Regions from separate parts of the Homo sapiens genome. Here all the other regions are reported to be linked to region 2. The links are microRNA targets in miRTarBase. Many come from high-throughput screens and were not tested one by one. Region 2 holds a microRNA gene; each other region holds the end of a gene's coding sequence.
What was found. The annotated mature microRNA hsa-miR-4759 reads UAGGACUAGAUGUUGGAAUUA and lies in region 2 at 1,574-1,594, shown strand. An mRNA with a match to its seed (bases 2 to 7 or 8) in the 3' UTR can be bound and repressed. Matches are read on the target gene's strand: a 7mer-m8 pairs with bases 2 to 8, a 7mer-A1 pairs with bases 2 to 7 and ends in A, and an 8mer does both.

Region 1: the mRNA of PSD3 is a reported target of hsa-miR-4759. The part of its 3' UTR that is shown has no 7-base or 8-base seed match.
Region 3: miRTarBase lists SIGLEC9 as a target of hsa-miR-4759. The part of its 3' UTR that is shown has no 7-base or 8-base seed match.

The regions. Positions count from the first base shown.
Region 1 is chr8:18,532,463-18,536,527 of GRCh38, forward strand. PSD3 (pleckstrin and Sec7 domain containing 3) reads right to left here. Exons shown (of 16, transcript NM_015310.4): 16 at 1-3,496. The coding sequence ends at 3,281. Among named protein-coding and RNA genes, the nearest start is that of NAT2, 140 kb to the left of the region's middle.
Region 2 is chr21:26,952,392-26,956,457 of GRCh38, forward strand. MIR4759 (microRNA 4759) reads left to right here and starts at 1,570; the gene lies at 1,570-1,652. It overlaps ADAMTS5 (ADAM metallopeptidase with thrombospondin type 1 motif 5), which reads right to left. Exons shown (of 8, transcript NM_007038.5): 2 at 2,348-2,480. RefSeq lists an enhancer at 1,617-3,043.
Region 3 is chr19:51,129,391-51,133,455 of GRCh38, forward strand. SIGLEC9 (sialic acid binding Ig like lectin 9) reads left to right here. Exons shown (of 7, transcript NM_014441.3): 7 at 501-920. The coding sequence ends at 689. Among named protein-coding and RNA genes, the nearest start is that of SIGLEC9, 6.5 kb to the left of the region's middle.

The DNA of each region.
Region 1 (4,065 bases), not on the chromosome of region 2:
CCACAAGACCACTGCACCAAAAAATGCTTTCTATCCTCTGCATCTAAGAGGAATAAAAAGGTTACACATAATCCAGGGACTACATTTCCATCAGAGGACTCTCTCCCATCATGGTTTTGCTGAGATTAATTAAAATTCACAAAAGTATTGCTCAGTTTAATTAGACACTGCTGAGAGTTAGCAAAATGATGTTTCAAAAAAGTGCACTTCAGAAATGCCTACGGGCTGGCGATAAAGTAAGGACTCTGCATCCCAGTAATTAAGTTTTGATTGCTAATGAGGAATCCCAGACACCTCCCTGTAAAAGCCAGCATGCGAGGTGGGGACAAACCCCTAAAATTCAGATTTTATACATGGGCCACCTGTATGGTCAATTTTGCAACAACACTATGACCAAGGCATTCTGATAGCTGTCAAGATTTTCTGTACTAGAAATTAATATGAAGTGTATTGACGTGAAGAAGAATGATTTATCATATGGAAGGAAGTCCCAAGGCTCCTGGGCGCTGAGGTGGGCGACGGAGGTGGGTGGCGTACCTTCAGAGGAAAGGGAAGGGGTGCTCCCTTGTACCGTGAATTGGGCAACAGGCTTGGAGCAGCTGTGAAAGGAAACATCCTCAATTTCTTCTGGCTAGATGCCACAGGAAATAAATTATCCCAAAGGAAAATGTGGTTGGCTATGGGCCAGACTCTCAGAATCTAGGCAAATCAGTGACTGTTTCCTCCCATAGCATAAACTCTTGGCCTCCTTCATGCACTCATGACAGACAGCAACCTTCAGAAGCCTCAGGGAAGAGGTGTTCTCAGCCCATGCGCTAAAGATGGACAGCATCATGCTACGGCAGTCTGAGATCCTGGCTCACAAAAGAACCTTTAAAGTTGTTTTTAAAGATAAACTATGCAAACATGGTATACTGAAGCTTCAAAAGAGCCCTTCGTATCCAATGATCTATTAGCCTATCCAGAAGTCCCTGGAGTTAATATTAGTGACTCATATGACACGGACAGTGCTATAGTGGTGCTGATGCTAGCCGAGTATTTCAACACTACTCTAAATGTCAGAAATACTGTAGCAAGGTACCATTCAATGTATATTAAATAAGTAAAATACATACAGACATTCTATATACATAGATATAGACTGTGGGCAAACACATTCAAGCCACTCAGGGAAGTTCCTTTTTCTTTAGTTACTGAAGCTTGTAGATGACATGGTCTAGGTACCTCTCTCCCCTCGGCTTAGTATAAACATTTAGGCAGAAAACAAATATCCTGATAATTTAGATTATCAGGTAGAAAGACAGATAACTTGCTTGTGGATATGTTGGATTCAGTGAGAGGCTACAAAAATCAATCTGATACATGGGCCATATTGGTAACTATCCTGTTTGTTTTGCAGTTCTGAAACATAAACTTAGTTACTGCCTTTACCCAAACAAGGCAGAGAGTTAAAAGTGAGGTTTTTTTTTTTACAGGTGTGGCAAAATACTTATTACAAAGAAAGCAACTGCAACCCTAGAGAGGGGTAAGCCTTCTCTGGGCAATAGTCATGGACATTTACAGAGGGGAAGGAAGTAAACGTTAATAAATAATTCTGTAAATAAATGCTAGTACATCATAATAACATACCACTTAGACACTACCATGGCTTTACAGCAGGTTTTCTCTAATTCACTGGAACCATGCTATTCCTGTAGAGCAGCTGATTCTTTGGTCATAGTACCTTCAACAAATAAACTATAGAACTAGAGAAACTTTCTAAGGGAGGAAAAAGAAAAATCAAAGTGATACTATTAGTTCTGAAGTTGTGCCACTTGCGGAGATTTTAACTTTAGGGATTACAGAGTTTCAAGGTTAGGAAATCACAAAGCTCTAGGTCTCAGTGGGCTAAACTTTCACTCCTTTCTCTTCCTCTACAGAAGAATATTCTGTTTATCACCCTGAACTTCAAAGGGACTGTAACTGGAACAAGCTCATGACTGCAAAGTTAATAGAACCATTTTGAGTAGACAGAAAGAAAGGACTGAAAATAGATGAAGTATTTTTAGGAGAAAGTTGAGTAGTAGCAGAGTGAAGTGGCTATCAAGGAGACTGAGACAAGAATAAACAAAGTCACTTTGCACCTGCAACCAGAAGATTCCTCAGTTTTCCAACCATAATTCATTCTGACTACTACTTTCAGATATATTTTAAAGAACCAATATCCATCGTGGACAACTGCAGCTACGTTTTCCTTCCTTATTTTGTCTTAAGGACACAAGAAAAGCTGTTTCATTTTAGTATTAATTTGTTAGGAAGGAAGACCTCAATATCACAACCAGGACACAACCCCATGCCCACACACGCACACACACGCACGCACACACACATATGTAGAGTAAGAAAAATCTATTCCTGGATGGAAGGATATCAACGATAGAGATGATGGATTTCTAGTCTAGACCCTGTGGGAGTGAGGTAACAATTCCTGCAGACTGAGCACATGCCTACTGCTGCAGCTCCTCAAGGGCCGATTATTGCCCCCATCCTTTAGCAAACAAAATTAACTGGGTATCAATCTTTCCTCAGCCTTCAAAGGCAAAATGACTCCACTTCCTCTTTCCCTTGCTTGGCTGAAATGGAATCAGCACTTCAAGCAAGCTAATGTGCTTCCCTAAGTTCTCAATCCTACGATCTTCACGCTTCTTTTCCCTGCTTCCAGCAGGGTCCGATCTCAACAACAAGTGCTAAGCTGCACATGAAGCTGCCTCATATTGGAGCAACTAGATTCCCAGCACTGTGATTCTTACTGGAGCATCTGTGAGTGCTCAATTCTACCTCTGTGACTGGGCAAGATTTCACATATAAAGGCGTATATTAACTCCAGCTAGAATTTACTAAAACTACAGTTTGTCCAGTTAAGTGTTTCACAATGGATTAAATTCTTTAACCTTAAAAAAAAGTTTAACAGTTGATATGAGAATACATAAAACAACTGAGCAGACTGCAAACAAGAGAAAACCAAAAGAGAAGGGATACATAATTCATTCTGAAATCACGATCCCCTCCTCCTCACAGAAAAGGTGCATTAGCTATCAAGTTGCAAAAATCATCAAAGCAAAAGAAATCAAGAGCAAAGACAATCTGTACAGAAACTAACAAAAATATACAATAGAAAAAATTACTAATGCACCGTTTTGTCACAGACTTTTTTTTTTTAAATATATTCACGGATTACCAGAAAGATCTTGAAAAACCCTATTTTGCTCCATGACCAGCACTTCCTGGCCGCAGATGGACTCTAAGTAACTTTTTGCTTAATGCTTGGTGTTTCAGGTCGGTGATCCTTCCTCTCTGACACGTTACGCTTGACTTTGGCAGTGATTGGAGAAGTATCCGGGTTCAGCGAAGGACTCGAGTGCGACTTCTTCAGTCCTGCAGCCTCGCTTTCATCGTTACTCAGTAGCTCTTTGCCTCCTTCCTTGAGAATGCTGACATACATTTCATAGCGGGTTTTCTGAAGGCAAAGCCAGAGAACAACGGTAGTCAGAAAACTGTTCAAAATGCACGTGTGCAGCACACTTGTGTATTACCCACCTGGAGAGTGTGAATGGCTGTTGAAGACTTCGCTTCATTTCCCAAACTGACAAATTACTTGGGCACTTACTGGGCACATGAGAGGCAACTACAGAGACTGTCTTATGTAGATAAGAAATTAAGTTAGAATTTTAGTTCTCATTTGTTCTAGATTCTGACAGAATGTCAACTTGGAGTTGCTGGCTACCAGATGGAACACCATGAATCTAGAACACTCAGGCATGAGAAGGGTCTAAGTTGGAGGAGCTGTCACCTCTGGTTTTCGGCGGCTGCATGGCTCTTGTGGCTCTGTACCAAAGTCACCTGAGCCTCCCCAGGTAGTCCAGGCCTCACAAGAAACTGGCTTGGATATGGTTGTTTACTCTTTTTCTGACTCCCTGTAACCCTACAAAGGCTTGCCTTGAGGGACCATTCCGTGGCTAATCTCCTGGACAGTCAGTCCCCTATGAGACCATACCACCTTCTAGAAGCTGCTCTGGGTTTCCCTCC
Region 2 (4,066 bases):
ATCAGCATCTGGCTTCCTGCCTCTCAGACTGCTGCATCAGCCTTGTAACCCAAGATTGCCTTAGGAATTCAGGAGAGCTGGGAAAGGTGACCCTGCAGGGCTCTTCAATCCTCCCTAGTTAACTTGAGGTCAAAGCATCCCTGAAGAAGCTGCACTTATTGCCACAGTGTTTGTCTTACAGGGAAATCTCCCAGATGCAGTCAATGTGTGAAAACCAATCACTAGAAAGGAAAGAAACTGCCCTTCCTTTAAGGAATGTGGAATCTTTCCTTTTGAAGATCAAGATTTGGAGCCCATAATCCTGTGGATGGATGACGCCAACATTCAGCTCTGCTGCTTATTCCCCATAATTTCTCCGCTTGACCTGTGACGAATCAGCTTCTGCCTTTCCAGGGACTTAGAACCTTTCTTATGGGACTCCTCTCACTCTGAATGATGGTGATTAATTACCAGTGTACTTTAAAAGTCTCCTCTATTTAATTACATCCTCCTGAGTATTTGGACTAATTCCTCTTAGTTTCCGGTGCAGATCGGAATGTTGCCTTGAGCAAGTCTCATGTTTCTTTCTCCCGCTTACGCAGTCAAGCACATACATAGATACGTAATAAATATTGATTAAGGTTCTGTATTAGGCTGTGTTTTTATCAGTAAGGATTAATAGGCATAAATGAGAGACATGATCCCTACCCTGGAGCCTAAATGGCATGTGTTATAAAGACGCTTTCAGGCTGACCAGTTCTTCTAGTGCAGCTGAGAAGACAGCCATGCCTCCTCATTAGCCCACTTTATAGGGAAGAAATGGAGACTCAAAGTATCTAAATCACTTGTCTGAGATAAAACAGAGAACCCAGAGACAGAGCTGGGACTCCACTCAGATCTTTGACTACTGAAGCCAAAGACGCCTAATCAATAAAACACTGAATTATTCTCAGTGATGCTATTGGATAATTATTTACGTTTAGGTTTTATATTTGTGTTTTTCTGCTTAGGAGGTAAGAAACGTGTCAGGAACATTAATGCCATACTTAAGAACTGACATTTAACTACTGAATTCTGTTTTACTGCGGCAATATTGTGAATTATGCAATTACACTGTACCTTGGATTAGAAGTTATTTAACTCCCCAAAGAAAACATAGCAGTTAGAAATGGATGCTTTGTGAAAATATTCTCTGCCTATTAGGAATGTAAAAAAGTAGTTTTAATTCCCATTTAAAAGTTATAATTTTAACCTTAAAAATCAAAATCTGTTTAAATCAAAATCTTTTTTGCTATAGATGGCAAAAGGTACCATAATTATCAAACCATGCTTTGCTCCCAAAAATGTGATGCTGAGTTGATACATACATTTCAAAAGCAAATGAACTATTTAGCTAAAAAGCAAAACATAAGTACATGTGGATATAAATAACATCTACTATCTAAACTCTACCCAATATATTCCCCAAAATAATTCCCTGAAATAGGCACTATTATCCCTATGTTTCAGATATGAAAACTGGAGCTCAGAGAGTTTAAATAATTAGACCAGTGTGACATAGGTATAAAGTAATTTAGCAAAAATTGGGCTCATTTAGGACTAGATGTTGGAATTAGACAGAAAAAAGTTAGACACAAAAAATTGTGTCTAATTCCAACATCTAGTCCTAAATGTACTAAGCCAATTTCTCATACACCTAGTAATCTAGGTCAATAATTAGGAAGCACATATTCTTTATTTTGGAAATATTTTTTAGCAATCAACTCAGTCCTCTATTTATAGATGTAGGATTTAGATGTGTTTCTTACAACAAACAAATTAGGTAAGTGACATTTTAAAGCAAACCCTGTTGAGTGTCAGGCTTGGCTTCCTTTCCTTGCTATTAAGAACAAGACAGAAATATTTACCATAAGCCATTGATGACCTTTGACAGGAGCCTACAATTATCACTGACAATGAAATAAAACATGTTAAATTTCTGTGCAAACTGATTAGCCCTGGATGAGCCAGTACTGTCTCCAGTAACTTCTAAGAAGGACATCTCTGCATACCAAAGTTGCCTGTGACAAATTTCATCCAGGGGTCATTTACGGATGCTTAAAAAGATAGTAAGAAGGCAGTAGCAGTAGCAAATTTCTCTTGAACTTTTAAATGACACTGTCAGAAGAAAACATCCACCGTGTTGCTGACTTTGCCTTCCCTGTCGCTCGTATTAGTTAACCTTAAAAGTGCAGATATAAACAAATTTAATTCCCAGTGGTACATCTGAACCAGGAGAAATCTGGAATTAATTGCTAAGTATTTTGGTTCCTGTTGCAGCTGTTACAAGTGTTTGATTTGGTGAGGGAAAAGAAAAGGCGCTGCATACCGATTTCGTGAGCCACAGTGAAGGCTGCGTGGAGGCCATCGTCTTCAATCACAGCACAGCTGCGCTCTGGAGAACATATGGTCCCAACGTCTGCCATTCCCAGGGTGTCACATGAATGATGCCCACATAAATCCTGCCCAGGAGAAAGAAAGAAATCATTAAAATCAATTTACATCCAGAAGGAGCCGCCACATAGAGCCACTTGCTTACCCCAAATGGCAACAGGGATATGTTTATGGTATCACCTGTTCCTCTCTGGAAACGTTCCAAAGGCAAACTCAAGGCAGAGACTCTTCTGAACTGCTCTGGGGCCCAGAAACACAGAAGGATAATGGAACTCAATTACATTTAAAAAGATGTCTTAGGATTGTAACTTGTCTATTACAATAGCACCCGCAGCTTTAACAAAGCCGTAATGCAGATACGTCTCTGATCACCTTCCCATATGGTCATGCTTAGGAAAGTCCTAAAATTCTGATGGAAATTCATGCTAAATTTATCAAAATCTGGCCTTATAATTTGTTTTCTATTACAGGGGCAAACTGCAGCCAGACGTCTGCAGCAGAGTATAAATTTATTAGAAATTTGGATAGAAAACTAAATTTTAATTCATAATTTGAGGAAAGGTCATCTTTTACTCCCCAAATGAGCTGTAATTTCATAGGTTGTGTCTTCTGAAATCTGTACCTTCTTACTCATAACATTTAATGTAGCATTTCTCAACCTGACCAATCTGCAGAAAATATATGTCATATATTAATTGTGTATACATGAATATATGCATTTTTCTGGTAAAAAGTCATAGTTTTTCATAGATGTCATGTAATCTTTTAAGAGATTCTCAAATAGGAACATGATTCCACCCCAATAATGGTGAAAAATGATCAATTTAGATGAAAGGGACCTCAACAAGCCTCTTGAGATATGAAACATAAAGAGAAAATATAAGCCGCAACTTTTTGACATGACAGATTCATAATGATAAACTTTCCCTTTAAATGCTATTTGAGTATTAATGGACATTAGCATTTCTTGTGCTTGACCACAATTTTCCATGAAAATTTACTAACAATGTGCTCATTTATATTCCCAAAGAGCAAGATCGTGTTTCTAGTAAGCCATAAGTTAGGAACTCTAAAAGGAAAAGTTTTAAAAATATACTAATTATTGTAAAGACAACTGTTTATTGGTTAAAATAATAAATGTTTCTATTATACAACAATCATTTTTGTATGCCCAACTTCCATATTCTCCAGCTTATATAGTAGGAACTCAGCAAACATTTGTTTCATTGAGTTGTGACCTACAGTCAGATACATTATAGTGCTCCCACATCTTTAATATGCTGTATGCCAGCAGGACCTCAGCAGGCTCCAGACAACCAGTACAAGGCAGTGTGACTACATAACCAGTGCTACATACTCAATGGCAACATACTCTTCTAACCCTTTGCTATTTTGCTGCATAAAAATCCTACCAAGGTGAAGAGTATTTAGAAACTCAGCTGTATTCTCTTCTCTTAACTTCATTCTCAGGTCCTTATTGTGTTCTGTTTATTATGAGTTCCCAGCTGAGATAAGTTACAGTGTGGCCACCAAGTTACTGTAGCTTTAGACACTGGAAATCTCAGCCAAGTAGCCTTGGTTAATCATGTCACAAAACCAACAGCCTTCCAAAGTTTCCTGTATATCCTCCCATGTCATCCCATGGGATGCCAAA
Region 3 (4,065 bases), not on the chromosome of region 2:
CCTTGTGATCTGCCCACCTTGGCTTCCCGAAGTGCTGGGATTACAGGCGTGAGCCACTGTGACCGGCCACATTCTGACCTTTTAAGCACCTACCTCTCCACTAGGGCAAGAACAAGGGTGAAGTGAGTGAGGCTGTTGCCTCAAGTGCATTTTTTCGTTTGTTTGTTTTTGTTTTTTGAGATGGAGTCTCGCTCTGTCACCCAGGATGTAGTGCAGTGGCACAATCTTGGCTTACTGCAACCTCTGCCTCCTAGGTTCAAGCGATTCTCCTGCCTCAGCCTCCTGAGTAGCTGGGATTAAAGGTGCACACCACCACACCTGGCTAATTTTGTATTTTTAGTAGAGACAGGGTTTCACCATGTTGGCCAGGCTGGTCTCAAACTCCTGACCTCAGGTGATCCGCCTACCTCAGCCTCCTGAAGAGCTGGGATTACAGATGTGAGCCACCGCGCCCCATCCTCACTGTCTGCTCTGACTCACTTCTCTCTCCCATGTCTCAGGGGCCCCTGACTGAACCTTGGGCAGAAGACAGTCCCCCAGACCAGCCTCCCCCAGCTTCTGCCCGCTCCTCAGTGGGGGAAGGAGAGCTCCAGTATGCATCCCTCAGCTTCCAGATGGTGAAGCCTTGGGACTCGCGGGGACAGGAGGCCACTGACACCGAGTACTCGGAGATCAAGATCCACAGATGAGAAACTGCAGAGACTCACCCTGATTGAGGGATCACAGCCCCTCCAGGCAAGGGAGAAGTCAGAGGCTGATTCTTGTAGAATTAACAGCCCTCAACGTGATGAGCTATGATAACACTATGAATTATGTGCAGAGTGAAAAGCACACAGGCTTTAGAGTCAAAGTATCTCAAACCTGAATCCACACTGTGCCCTCCCTTTTATTTTTTTAACTAAAAGACAGACAAATTCCTACCTCTCTGTACCTTGGTTTCCTGCTCTGTAAAACAGGAATGAGAAGCCCTACTTGCAAGGTTGTGGTCACCATTCCAGGAGTCACATCCCGTTAGAGCTCCTGGCACAGGTGTATGCCGAGCACTGATGGATCGCTGTGCTTTGAACACAAAGGTCCTGCTGGGAACCTCTCCTGATTCTGGTGGCAACTAGTACTTATATGTCTGTGTCACTTGCCTGCAAAATAGCGATTCTGCAACTTTCCAGGAAATAACCTCAGCCTGCAAATCAGGTCTAGGTAGCATCTGGATCCTGCCCACCTCTTCAGCCTCATCTGCCCACCCTGTGACTGCTAGGCCGCCTTACTCTCTGCAGTCTACGTATTGTGCACAGTCCAGTGGGAATCTTTAGGACACACTGAGCTCTCTCCGCACTGCTCACAGCCCATCCATGGCTCCTGGATCCTGAACCTCCCATCACATCCTCTTCGTGACATCACTCTCCCACTTCAGTCCACTCCTCCATCTTCACCACTTAACCCACTGGTCCCTCTGGTCTTTTCCAAATCATTTGCAACATGCCCTGTTGGTTCATACCTCAGTCCTTGCACACTGGGGACCCTCCTCCTAGAACGCCCTCCTCCTGGGCCTTCTTCTGTCTCTGTCTTTGAAAATGGAGTTCAAGGATTGGACTTCTGGGTTGAGCTGAGGGAGAGAGTGAAGCAGCAGCTCATGATCTCCCTCCTCTAAAGCCAAACCCAGGGAATGAGAAACGTTTCCAAAGGGGCACAGGATCATCTGGCAAATTAAACAACATGATCCAAAAAAATTTACCTACATGCAGCACCCGAACGAGGAAAGGGACATCTCACAACAATCACTTTATGCAGTAGCCCTGATAGGAAGAAATCAAAGGACTGGAGGAAGCACTAAAACTTCCCTAAATCTAGACTCTTGCCCATTTACGGCAGCATCAAAAAACCGTAAAGTACCAAGGAACAATTTTTTAAAAATCATGGCCGGGCACAGTGTCTCACGCCTGTAATTCCAGCACTTTGGGAGGCCGAGGTGGGCAGATCACGAGGTCAGGAGATCGAGACCATCCTGGCTAACATGGTGAAACCCTGTCTCTACTAAAAATACAAAAATTAGCCGGGCGTGGTGGCGGGTGCCTGTAGTCCCAGCTACTCGGGAGGCTGAGGCAGGAGAATGGCGTGAACCCGGGTGGTGGAGCTTGCAGTGAGCTGAGATCGTGCCACTGCACTCCAGCCTGGGAGACAGAGCGAGACTCCGTCTCAAAAAAAATAAATAAATAAATAAATAAATAAGTAAAAAATCATATCCGAGCTGGGCGTGGTGGCTCACGCCTGTCATCCCAACACTTTGGGAGGCTGAGGAGGGCAAATCACTTCAGGTCAGGGGTTCAAGACCAGCCTGGCCAACATGGTGAAACCCCATGTCTACTAAAAATACAAAAATTAGCCAGGCGAGGTGGCGTATGCCTGTAGTCCTTGCTACTTGGGAGGCTGAGGCAGGAGAATTGCTTGAACCCGGGAGGCGGAGGTTGCAGTGAGCTGAGATTGTGCCATTGCACTCTAGCCTGGGCGACAGAGCAAGAGTCTGTGTCAAAAAAAAAAAAAAAAAATCCTATGCTATGGTTTGGATATGGTTTGTTTGGCCCTGCCAAGCCTCCTGTTGATATTTGATGCCCAGTGTTGGCGGTGGGGCCAAATGGGAGGTGTTCAGGTCCCGGGATTGGATCCCTCATGAATGGCTTGGTGCTGTCTTCAAGGTAATGAGAGAGTTCTCACTCTGTTACTTCCTGTGAGAGTTTCTCCAAGAGCTGGGTGTTAAAAAGACATTGGCACCTCCCCTCCCCAGCCCGTGCTTCCTCTCTTGCCGTATTGTCTGCACATGCAGACTTCCTTTTGCCTTCCACCATGAGTGGAAGCTTCCTGAGACCCTCACCAGAAGCAAAGGCTGGTGCCAAGCATTTTCTATGTGGTGCAGAACTGTGAGCCAAATAAACTGTGGGGGGTGCACGGCAACATATTCAAGCTTATGTACAAGGCATTTGAGGTCGAGGCATGGAAAAATACTGAGGCACCGTGTGCGTGTTGTTTGTGCATGAGATTGAAACTCCTTGACCCTGAAAACAGGGCAAGGAACGGAATGTGTGATAAGGAGCGCGGAAAGCAGCCTCCTGAGACTGTAGTCTGAGTGTTTTTACCAGGCCATATGTGTCTCATGACCCGACCGCAAAAGGCCATCTGGTGGACATTTTGGTTTAACAAACCCTTTCGAGAAACACTTGGCGGACGGATTCTGGGGCGGCACTCTTTCAGAGATGCTGCTGCCGCCGCATCCCGCTCAGCTGGAATTGTCTGAGTGCTTCATTCTTGGCGTTCACTGCAGCTACAAGCTGTATAAACCTCTTTTCTTTATAAATTACCCAGCCTCAGATATTACTCTATAGCAACACAAATGAACTAAGATAACACGGAATGCTTCTGTACTGATGAATATAGAACATTTTTGAGAGACTTAAGGAAGGCCCAAATGAAGGAAGAAATATATCACGTTCATGGATTAGAAGGCAAAAATGGTTAAAATGTCAGTTGTCTGCATATTGATTTAGGTAATCCCTGTCAAAATTCCTATATATATATAAAATATATGTATATGTGTATATGTATGTACATAAGTATAGATGAGTGTATATGTATGTATATTGTAAATATAAGTTTATATATATACATATATAGTTATAAATTGATAAGTTGGTTCTGAAATTTATATAAACACATAAAAACCTAGAATAACCAAATCATTGTGATAAGAAACACATTTAGAGAAGGCAGACTTTAACACTAGAGTAATACAGAGAGTGTGGTGTGGACTAGAGTACAGTCTACAAATGGACCCACACATATACAGTCAACTGAATAGCATCAAGTCTATTCAATTGGGACAGGAAAGACTTTTAATAAATGTTGGTAGGTGGTCGGGCGCGGTGGCTCACACCTGTAATCCCAGCACTTTGGGAGGCTGAGGTGGGTGGATCACTTGAGGTCAGGAGTTCAAGACCAGCCTGGATAACATGGTGAAACACCATCTCTACCAAAAATACAAAAAAAAAAAAAAAAAATTAGCTGGGTGTGGTGGCA